Linked DNA regions of Homo sapiens. The protein of the gene in region 3 purifies or fractionates together with the protein of the main gene of each other region. This does not show direct contact. Each region holds a gene or a part of one and is shown on either strand. Other genes may lie near its edges.

Evidence for each region.
Region 1: the proteins of PSMD10 (region 3) and PAAF1 purify together in Homo sapiens (co-immunoprecipitation; 7 studies listed by BioGRID and IntAct, with this or other methods). This does not show direct contact.
Region 2: the proteins of PSMD10 (region 3) and PSMC6 purify together in Homo sapiens (co-immunoprecipitation; 7 studies listed by BioGRID and IntAct, with this or other methods). This does not show direct contact.

The regions. Positions count from the first base shown.
Region 1 is NC_000011.10:73,907,884-73,911,638, forward strand, and holds part of PAAF1 (proteasomal ATPase-associated factor 1), read left to right. Parts: intron 1-1,515; coding exon 1,516-1,710; intron 1,711-3,755. UniProt on the Homo sapiens protein: Inhibits proteasome 26S assembly and proteolytic activity by impairing the association of the 19S regulatory complex with the 20S core.
Region 2 is NC_000014.9:52,717,135-52,720,889, reverse strand, and holds part of PSMC6 (26S proteasome regulatory subunit 10B), read right to left. Parts: intron 2,810-3,755; coding exon 2,748-2,809; intron 2,662-2,747; coding exon 2,538-2,661; intron 1,914-2,537; coding exon 1,852-1,913; intron 30-1,851; coding exon 1-29. UniProt on the Homo sapiens protein: Component of the 26S proteasome, a multiprotein complex involved in the ATP-dependent degradation of ubiquitinated proteins.
Region 3 is NC_000023.11:108,084,870-108,088,624, reverse strand, and holds part of PSMD10 (26S proteasome non-ATPase regulatory subunit 10), read left to right. Parts: intron 1-525; coding exon 526-672; intron 673-772; coding exon 773-939; intron 940-3,497; coding exon 3,498-3,651; 3' UTR 3,652-3,755. UniProt on the Homo sapiens protein: Acts as a chaperone during the assembly of the 26S proteasome, specifically of the PA700/19S regulatory complex (RC).

The DNA.
Region 1 (3,755 bases), on a different chromosome or scaffold from region 3:
TTTTTAACTCTGTTCCTGTTAGCAGTTTTGTGTTGGAGGCTTCTGCAGTGTCCTGTCCAGGACATGTGGGAGGCAATAAGGAAATCCAGGAACTCATTGCTGTGTTGTTTTTTAAGTCCTGAGGTCCTTAAGTGGTCCACCACCTTCTTTCCATCATTCCAAGTCTTACTATGCTTGTGGTGTCAATGACTTTTCAGTTGTAAACAGAAGGACCTAGGAGCAATGGGACTACTCTTTCTTGGCCAAAACCAGAAGTCATGTCCTTTTTTCAAATGGGGAGGCTAACCCTTTTAATCAATTATCAGTGAAAGCAGCAGCAGCATATATGTAAATAAATATATATATATGTGTGTATATATATGTGTATATATATGTATATATGTGTATATATGTGTATATATGTATATATATGTGTGTATATATGTATATATATGTGTATATATGTATATATATGTGTATATATGTGTATATATGTGTGTATATATATATGTATATATATGTGTGTATATATATATGTGTATATATATGTGTGTATATATATATATGGGTCTTGCTCCACTGCCCAGGCTGGAGTGCAGTGGAGCAATCATGGCTTACTGTAGCCTTGAACTCCAGGGCTCAAGCAATCCTCCCACCTCAGCCTCCTGAGTAGCTGGGATTACAGGCACGAGCCACCATACCTAAATTAAATTTTTTGTACAGACAGAGTCATGCTGTGTCACCCAGGCTGGTCTTAAACTCCTGCGCTCAAGAGATTCTCCTGCCTCAGCCTCCCAAAGTGCTGGAATTACAGGTGTGTACCACTGCACCTGGCCAAGGCAGTGATTTTCAAACTGAATTAGCTTAGGTGTCAACTTTTTTTTCCTCCAAAGTTCTTGTTAAGGTGTCTACTTAATTTTTATTTTTTATTTATTTATTTATTTTTTGAGACGGAGTCTCCTCTGTTGAAGGCTGGAGTGCAGTGGCGTGATCTCGGGTCACTGCAACCTACGCCTCCCAGGTTCGAGCGATTCTCCTGCCTCAGCCTCCTGTTTAGCTGGGATTACAGGCATGTGTCACCACGCCTGGCTATTTTGTATTTTTAGTAAAGACAGGGTTTCATCATGTTAGCTAGGCTGGTCTTGAACTGCTGAGCTCAGGCAATCCACCTGCCTCGGCCTCCCAAAGTGCTGGGATTACAGGTGTGAGCCACCACGCCCGACCTCTTAATTTTTCTTTTTAAAAAAGAGTTTTGAAGACAAAATAAAAAACTTGAACATGATTTCTCTAGCACACTCCACTAAAAATTAAATCCAGTACTTGTTTTTCCATGCCTGTCTTTCACAGCTAGACTTTGATTCATTGGGAAGCTGGGACTCTATTTCTGTTTTTCTAGCACTTGAACATGGCCAGCATGTGGTACCTGTTCAGAACATGTTTGTGAAGGGATGGAGTCATTTATGCAGCTCCATCTTCTCTGCCCTTGTAGTTCCTTTACTCCATCCTCCATCTTAGGGAGTTTTTTTCTCTTGCTAGGTATCCTGGATACAGCCATCGTTGATCGGGGGAGGAATGTGGTGTCTGCTTCTCGAGATGGGACAGCACGACTTTGGGATTGTGGGCGCTCAGCCTGCTTGGGAGTCCTTGCAGATTGTGGTTCTTCTATCAATGGAGTGGCGGTGGGTGCTGCTGACAACTCCATAAACCTTGGCTCCCCTGAGCAGATGCCCAGTAAGTTGATAATGATATGTAGCATTGTTTTATTTTCTTAGGCCCCCTTCAGTGATTGCCTTAGTTTCTCCTTTTCTTCCTCATCCTTTTCTGCTCTGTGCCTGGTATTTCTGTTTTCACCATACGATTAATATTTACTCTGTACCTACTATGTTTCTATTACTTTGGAATCTACAAAGGAAGTATATGTCATAGCACTGCGTTTCAGTAAGTACAATCTAATGTAGAAGATGAGATAAATGCCTATAAAGCAGGGGTGTCCGATCTTTTGGCTTCCCTGGGCCACATTGGAAGACTTGTCTTGGGCCACACATAAAATACACAACATTGATGATAGCTGAGCTAAAAATAAATAAATCTCATAATATTTTAAGAAAGTTTATGAATTTGTGTTGGGCCTCATTCAGAGCCACCCTGGGCTGCAGGTTGGACAAGCTTGCTTTAAAACATTTAGAGAACAGTAACATTTGGCTGAAATAATTAGTGATTCTTTTTATTTATTTTATTCTTTTAGCGATAGAGTCCTGCTGTTTTGCCCAGGCTGGCATTGAACTCCTGGGCTCAAGTGATGCTCCCACCACAGCCTCCCTAATAGCTGGGACTACAGGCCTGCACCACCATGCCTGGCAAATTAGCAAGTCCTAATGCAAATATAATAGGTTTTCAGAGGGACGGAGTGTTCCCGGTTAGTATAGATAGGAAAGATGTCACAAAAGAAGTTGGCTTGAACCTTTAGAGGATAAGTTGAAGTTGAACAGACAGTAATTGTAAGGATAGGACAATGGGAGCTAGGGCAAGGGGTAGGTGTAGGGGCAGTTTGCATTATAGCTTGGACGTGAAACTAAGTGTTATATAAAAAGATATGTTTGACTGGGCTAGAAAGTTGAATTAAGAGGGGTAGTAGTAGGAAATGGGTTGAATAGCTGTGGTGAGAGACTAATAAAGGTCCTAATAAGGCAACTTTCCTTCTTATTTTCCCATAATAATAGTTGCATCTCTGTTCCATAGGACAATGTTTTTTCTACTGTTGTCTTAGCCCCTCACATTTTAAAAAATAGCCCTTATTTTTTAGGGCCATTTTAGGCTCACAGCAAAATTTAGCAGAAAGTACAGGGGACCAGGTGCAGTGGCTCACGCCTGTAATCCCAGCACTTTGGGAGGCCGAGGCGGGCGATTCACAAGGTCAGGAGCTCGAAACCAGTCTGGCCAACATAGTGAAACCCCATCTCTACTAAAAATACAAAAAATTAGTTGGGTGTGGTAGTGTGTGCATGTAATCCCAGCTACTCGGGAGGCTAAGGCAGGAGAATCGTGTGAACCTGGGAGGAGGAAGTTGCAGTGAGCTGAGATCGCTCCATTGCACTCCAGCCCAGGCGACAGTGTGAGACTCTGTCTCAAAAAAAAAAAAAAAAAAAAAAGTACAGGGAGTTCTTATATACCTTTTGCCTTACCCACTCACACATAGCCCTCCTCACTATCAATATCCCCCACCAGAGTGGTACATTTATTACAGCTGATGAACCTACGTGACACATTATTGTCACCCAAAGTTCAGAGTTTACATTAGGGCTTACTCTTGGTGTTATATATCCTATAGGGTCTGACAAGTGTACAGTGACATGTATTTACCATTGCAGTATCATACATAGTAGTTTCTTAGCCCTAATAATCCTCTGTACTCTGTTCAAGCAGTTCTCCTGCCTCTCACCCTCTCGAGTAGCTAGGACTCTAGGCATGCACCACTACACCTAGCTACTTTTTTTTATTTTTGTAGAGACAGGGTCTCACTATGTTGCCCAGGCTGGTGTTGAACTCATGGCCTCAAGTGATTCTCCCATCTTAGCCTCCCAAAGTGCTAGGATTACAAGCATGAGCCACAGCTCCTGGCCCTAAAGTAATTTAAATGAGAATATTTTTTCTTGTTTTCTGTAATTTTTCATTTCCCATTTACTCTTCAACCCATTCTAGGATGGTTTGTGCCCAAGTACTTGACTGAAATGGCTGTTGTTAAAGTCACCAGTGACCTTCCTTTTTTTTTTTTTTTT
Region 2 (3,755 bases), on a different chromosome or scaffold from region 3:
GTATCAAATCCATCCATTTGATTCAGTAACTAAGAATATTAAGAATCAGATTTTACAAAAATTCTAACCATTAAAAAAAATAGCACACACCTTTTATATGTCTAATGCCATGAAATGTATTGTCTACAGATAGATATGTTCTATCTTCAGAATGGTCATTTGATAGAATTCTTTTTCTCTCTCTTATATAAAGGGATATACTTTCTAGCCTCAAAGTTCTAAGCTAGATTATGTACCTTTTAATAGCTATGTATCTTTCTATAGCTACCAGGTAGTTTTAATAAATCTGAAGGCTTCCATCATGTCAAGAATTATGAAATTAAACTATGTGGATCTAATTTCCAATGTCCAAAATTTCATCAATTATTTTTTAAAGGAAAAGCTAATAATAAAATCCAATATATAAAGTGCTTATGATATGTCAGACATAACATTTATATTAGGATAAATGGATACAAAGATTTTTCTACAAATTTGATAATAAACTGATAATTTTTTTTTTTTTTTTTTTTTTTTTTTTTTGAGACAGAGTTTCACTCTGTCACCCAGGCTGGAGTACTGTGGCCTGATCATCGCTCACTGCAACCTTCACCTCCTGGGCTCGACCAGTCCTCCCACCTCAACCTCCTGAGTAGCTGGGACTGCTTTTTTTTTTTTTTTTTTTTTTGGAGACAGACTCTCGCTCTGTCACCCAGGCTGGAGTGCAATGGGGCGATCTCAGCCCACTGCAACCTCACCTCCTGGGTTCAAGCAATTCTCCTGCCTCAGCCTCCTGAGTAACTGGGATTACAGGCACACGCCACCACGCCCAGCTAATTTTTGTATCTTTACTAGAGATGGTGTTTCGCTACGTTGGTCAGGCTGGTCTCAATGCTCAGACCTCATGATCTGCCCAGCTGGGCCTCCCAAAGTGCTGGGATTACAGGCAGAAGCCACCATGCCTGGCCTATTTTTTCAAATAATTCTACTGTACACAGAAATACTAAAAGACATAAAAAATATTGTCCTCAATTTCTAAAGTTTTCTTGAATAAATGAAAAACCTTACTGCATTTAACAAACTCTCTAAAATATAGCTAGTCTGACAATGTGTTAGTTGATGATATATTAGTTACTTGAATAAAATGAGTATTTGTGTTATTTAAAAATATCTCAATTTAAGGTTTCTAAGAGATTTTATAATTTCCAAATGCTATGTTATCTTCTGAGCGGATCTGTATAATTTATGAAAAAAGATTTTTCAAATACTTCTAAGGAGAAAGAATTTGACACTGCATTACCCATGCTACCTAGTTTCTATTTGAAGTGGAAAATGTATTTGGACTCTTGATATCACTTTCACAGAATTTGGAGTGGGGAAAGGTAAAACTGGAGGAAGGCTTTATGTGCATTCTTTCATTCTGTCATCTATCCTCTTCAATTATCAAAACTATTTTAGTTGCCTCAGTCTCAGCAATAAAGTGAGAGAAAAAAATAATTTTTAGAGCAGCTTCATACATAATTATAGCTCATTTATTGCCAACAGTCTTAATATGACCATTACAAAAAATGTCTTCATAAAACTACCGCAAGATCACATTCATAAGAATTTAAATATATGAATGACTGATCTACTCAAAAAAACACAGAATAGTACAGGTGTATACCAAATGGAATTTGGCAGATAGCCTTATTTTCCAGTAGTCATTTTCTTAGAGTTTGTGATAGAGAAACATGTTTGTTCCTGACAATATTTTCAAATTTCATATTTCATTTAAAATGTTCTATATATTTTGACTATCAAATATGCAATGTTCAGTTCTTCATTTAATAAACATTGGTTTCTTTATAAACCCCCTTTACCAAATATTACCTCCATTAACGTTCTCTGAATCTCTCTGTCAGCTGAAGTACCCTCAGAAAACCGACGACCACCTAAGATAGTAGATTTGGAAATTTATATGCATTACTCTTTTCCTCTACAACCATCATTTAAGAAAACAGAACATAACAGTCTGTGGCTTAAAACATTAAGATGAAAATTAAAGAGCAAGAATTATGCTGACAAAGTTAGACTTGATTTTGGTGTAACATTTCTCATTTTGTTAAAGTGAAAGGTTATTTATTGAGACGGAGTCTCGCTCTGTCGCCAGGCTGGAGTGCAGTGGTGTGATCTCGGCTCACTGCAACCTACGTCTCCTGGGTTCAAGCGATTCTCGTGCCTCAGCCTCCTCAGTAGCTGGGATTACAGGCATGTGCCACCACATCCAGCTAATTTTTGTATTTTTAGTAGAGACAGGGTTTCACCATGTTGGCCAGATGGTCTCGATCTCCTGACCTGGTGATCTGCCCACCTTGGCCTCTCAAAGTGCTGGGATTACAGGCATGAGCCACCACACCCGGCCATGAAAGGTTATTTATTAAAATTGGTTAAACTAACATCTGATTCATTGTGGTATCTACTTCATACAAGTCACAATTACAGATTAAGAGAGGGAAAAAGGTTCTTTTACATTTAAAAAAAAGTCCTAAAACTTTCAACAAGGGTGTTATTCTTACCAATAGCATCTATTTCATCCATAAAAATGATGCATGGTTGATGATCTCTAGCATAATTAAACATTTCTCTGATCAAACGAGCACTTTCACCAATGTACTTGTCTACAATAGAACTAGATACAACCTGATTAAAGGAAAAACAGTAAGGTAAATATAAGATAATTCAAGTAAAATTAAATTTCAATAAGTACAAAATAATCTTCCCTTTACCTTTAAGAAATTGCAGTCCAGCTGGCTAGCAACGGCTCGTGCCAAGAGTGTTTTTCCCGTACCTAAGAATGACAAAAGAAGTCTTAATTAGATGGTAAGGTAGAAAAAAATTTGTTTTGAGACAGGCAATCACTCTGTCACCTAGGCTGGAGTGTGGCGAGATCACAGCTCACTGCAACCTTGACCTCCCAGACCTAAGCGATTTTCCCACCTCAGCCTCCCAAGTAGCTGGGATGACAGGCATGTGCCATCACGCACAGCTAAGTTTTTTGTTTGTCTGTTTGTTTTTCAGAGACGGGGTCTCTCTGTGTTGCGCAGGCTGGTCTTGAACTCTTGGGCTCAGGTGATCCTGCCACTTCAGCCTCCCAAAGTGCTGGGATTACAGGCAGGAGCCACCGCACCCGGCCTATGTGAAACAAATTTTTAAAATCCTTTTAAGAATATAATCGTTTGGCAAGTAAATTTTCCAAAATGAAAGCTAAATCCTAAATAGAATTTTCATTTAAAATTCCAAAGTACTTGGCCAGGTGTGGTGGCTCACACCTGTAATCCCAGCACTTTGGGAGGCTGAGGCGGGCAGATCACAGGGTCAGGAGATCGAAACACAGTGAAACCCCGTCTCTACTAAAAATACAAAAAATTAGCTGAGCGTGGTGGCACATGCCTGTAGTCCCACCTACTGGGGAGGCTGAGGCAGGAGAATCGCTTGAATCCGGGAGGTGGGGGTTGCAGTGAGCTTATAATCTCGCCACTGCACTCCAGCCTGGGTGACAGAGCAAGACTCTGTCTCAAAAAAAAAAAAAAAAAAAAAATTCCAAAGTACTTCTGCTGTCAACATTAAAATTTTAATCAAAATGTTATAATTTTTAAAATCTATTTTAAATTGACAAATAAATTGTATATTTATGGGTTAAATTATGATACATGTATATATTGAAGAATGATTAAATCAGGCAAATCAACATATCCATCACCTCACATGCTTAGCATTACTTTGTGGTTAGAACA
Region 3 (3,755 bases):
CATGGCCCTTGTGATCAAGCATGAGACTCATGGTTGCATTATTTTACAATGTTATGTTTGCCACTCATACTCTGTGATTTAAGGTAAACATACAGGAGAGGCTGAGGTAGGAGGATTGCTCCAGCCTAGTAGTTTGAGGCTGCAGTGAGCCATTGTACTCTATCCTGGGTGACAGACTGAGACCTTGTCTCTAAAAATAAAAAAACAAAAATAAACATACAGATCAGGGCTTGTTATGGTGAACCCTAAAAGACCATAAACTCTTTCTATTATGTTGGATTTTTTGTTTTTTGGTGAACATGGCCTGAATAATGAGGACCTAAATAACTTTTTTGTTACATAAAGAGATTTATTCTAATGATATGGTTATATTAGGATTAGATTTGTGAAGAGTAAGAATGGAACCTTTTTTGTAGGCAAATATTTTTTTGCCTTTGTAAAGCTCCTTGCTAACCCTTCCTAAATGTTAGCACTAATCCTTGTGCCTTTTTCCCCTGGTATTTCTACTACCTACTTCTTTTATAGGCAGGTTGGTCTCCTCTTCATATTGCGGCTTCTGCTGGCCGGGATGAGATTGTAAAAGCCCTTCTGGGAAAAGGTGCTCAAGTGAATGCTGTCAATCAAAATGGCTGTACTCCCTTACATTATGCAGCTTCGAAAAACAGGCATGAGGTATGGTTCCATCCTAGGCTACTTCTGTTGAGTTCTAAACGTGTATACAAACACAGATAGATTTCTGCATTGTTTTCTTCTTTCTTCTCCATCTTTCCAGATCGCTGTCATGTTACTGGAAGGCGGGGCTAATCCAGATGCTAAGGACCATTATGAGGCTACAGCAATGCACCGGGCAGCAGCCAAGGGTAACTTGAAGATGATTCATATCCTTCTGTACTACAAAGCATCCACAAACATCCAAGACACTGAGGGTAACACTCCTCTGTAAGTGACAAGTAGCAGTCATTTGTATTCTACCTGACATTAGCCTTCTTGCAATAATTCTTATACATCATTTCTTTTTTTATTCTGCTTATAAATGCAATACGTGTTAATGGCAAAAATGTTAAATTGCACAAAATATAAAGATAAAAATTGCCTATTATCTTGCCACTCAGAAATAACTACTGATCACATTCTTGTGTATTTCCTCCTGGTCTTTTATATTCAAATGTATATATTTTATACATACATATTTTTTAGCAAAATTGGGGTCATACTGTGTATGTAGTTTTAGCTCTTGTTCTTTTCACCTCATAGTATAAGCATATATTAAATATGTTTAAAACCTTTTTAATGGGTATATAAAATTCTGTATAGATGTGCCATAATTTAATCATTCCTCTATTACTGTATATTTAAACTTTTATGAGTTTTTCACTATTATAAATAATGGTACATTGAGCCAGGCATAATGGCTCATGTCTGTAATCCCAGCACTTTGTAAAGCCAAGGCGGGAGGATCACTTGAGGCCAGGAGTTCAAGACCAGCCTGGGCAACACAGCAAGACCCCCCGTCTCTAGAAAAAATTAAAAACTTAGCTAGGCATGGTGGCATGCACCTGTAGTACTAACTACTCGGGAGGTTGAGGTGGGAGGATTGCTTGAACCCAGGAGCTCCAGGTTACAGTGAGCTGTGATCACACCACTGCACTCCAGCCTGGGGAACAGAGCAAGACCTTGTCTCTAAAATAGTTGACCAACTTTGTACAGAAAACTTTTGGCCACATTTCTGATGATTACCTTCTTATAGACTCCTAGAAGTGGAATTGCTGCGTCAACAAATACACACATTTTAAGACTTGCTATATGTTGCCAAATTGCTTCCAGAGGAGTTGTATCATTTTACCCTCCCAACAGCAGTGTAAGAGTGCCTATTACCCCCTCACCAACACTAAATTATCCTTTTGTTATGTGAAAATGATATTTCATAGAGGTAATTTATATTTTTATTATCAGTGAATTTGAACTTTTTTTAATGTCCATAGGTAATTACATTTCTTATCTAATTGTAACTTTTTGTGTCCCTTTCTCTGTTTCCTTTTGGGGAATTAATTTATTTTCACTGGGTTTTAAGTGCTCTTGATTTGGCATGGTAAAATATTAATTTTCTGCAATGTTAGTTGAAAATATTTTTCCTAGTTTATCTTTTCATTTTGTTCATAATTTCTTTTACATAAGAGAAGTTTTAAAATTTCTACGTAGTCAAGCCCATTCATCTTTCCTCATGACTAGAAAGCTCTTCCTTACCCTGAAATTAGTTAAATATTCACCCGTCTTTTATTATAGGTTATTTTAACGTTTCATTGGTTTTGATTGAGGGTTAGTGTTATTGTTTTGCATTTAACTCTTAAAATCCATCTGTAATTGAATTATGTGTATGATCTGAAGCTGGCCTTTACCTTGATATTTTTCCACGGTACTTGGCCACTTTTCTTCTGTGTTGAATGGTGACTTTTTCTTGAACCAGAAGTTCTGTGAGTCTTCTTTTTAGTCCAGAGTGAGGTTCAGCCTTTTCCAATTTGACTTTAAGCCAACTTTTAAAAAGTATTATTTTCTTAACTCTTAGTTTTTAAAATCTTTCCTGCATTCTAAGAGACCCTGTTTAGAAAGACCTGTATGCCCTACCTCTTTTCTCCATAAATAGAAAGGCAGGATGGCCTAGAGGAAATCTAGGAGTCAGACAAGATAGAGTACTGGGACGAACATAGGATTTATGAATAGCTAGATGATGTTCACCCAATTCAGACTCTACCACTTACTAACAATATTAAATACTTGTATTAAACAATTTATAAAAGTTACTTAATCTTCCTTGAATCTTAATTTCCTCATCTGTAATATAAGGGTAATAATTCCTTCCTCACTAGATTATTGTGAGGTTTAAGTAAAGCAACATGTAAAGTGCCTCCTAATACCCTCCTGGCAAACTCTTAAGTGCATGGCAAAAGTTGTTACCCTCTTCCACTCAGTCTACTGCCAAGACATGTCAGCATAGGTAGGAACTTTAACCTCTGTCACCATTTCAACTGTAAAATGATGATAATAATACTTTGCTAACTTATAAGATAGATATATGGACTAAATGAGATAAAATCTTTTAAACTGCTTTTTCAAACTTTAAGCTGCACGAATTACTATTAACAGTTTATGAACTGAGGCTTTTCTAAATTCTAACCCTGAATTATTACATGTAGTGTTTGAGGTAAACAACTACTTATCTCTGTAAAATGAGAAAGTTGTTCCTTAGGCTAGCATTTAGATCCCTTCTTCTATTGTAAGTAGAACCAGAATTATGATTTACGATCTGGTATTACAAGGCTTTTTTTGTAGAATTTTAACTTACAGTCTCCCTATGCAAACTGATGTTTCTTTCCTGATTAAATAACTTTCCAATGTTACCATTTCTTAATCATATGCACTTCAGACTACCTAGCAAGAAATCCTAACCATTACATAGAATTGGTAGTGATTAATTGGTCTCTGGTGGTCCCTGATTTCAGACACTTAGCCTGTGATGAGGAGAGAGTGGAAGAAGCAAAACTGCTGGTGTCCCAAGGAGCAAGTATTTACATTGAGAATAAAGAAGAAAAGACACCCCTGCAAGTGGCCAAAGGTGGCCTGGGTTTAATACTCAAGAGAATGGTGGAAGGTTAAACAGCTTGGATTTATTCTTACTTTGTATGTTGTGTTGTTGTCCCCAGTGTCCTACAAACTAATGTATTTGTGCACAAGACATCATCTATGAATGATGAAGTTTT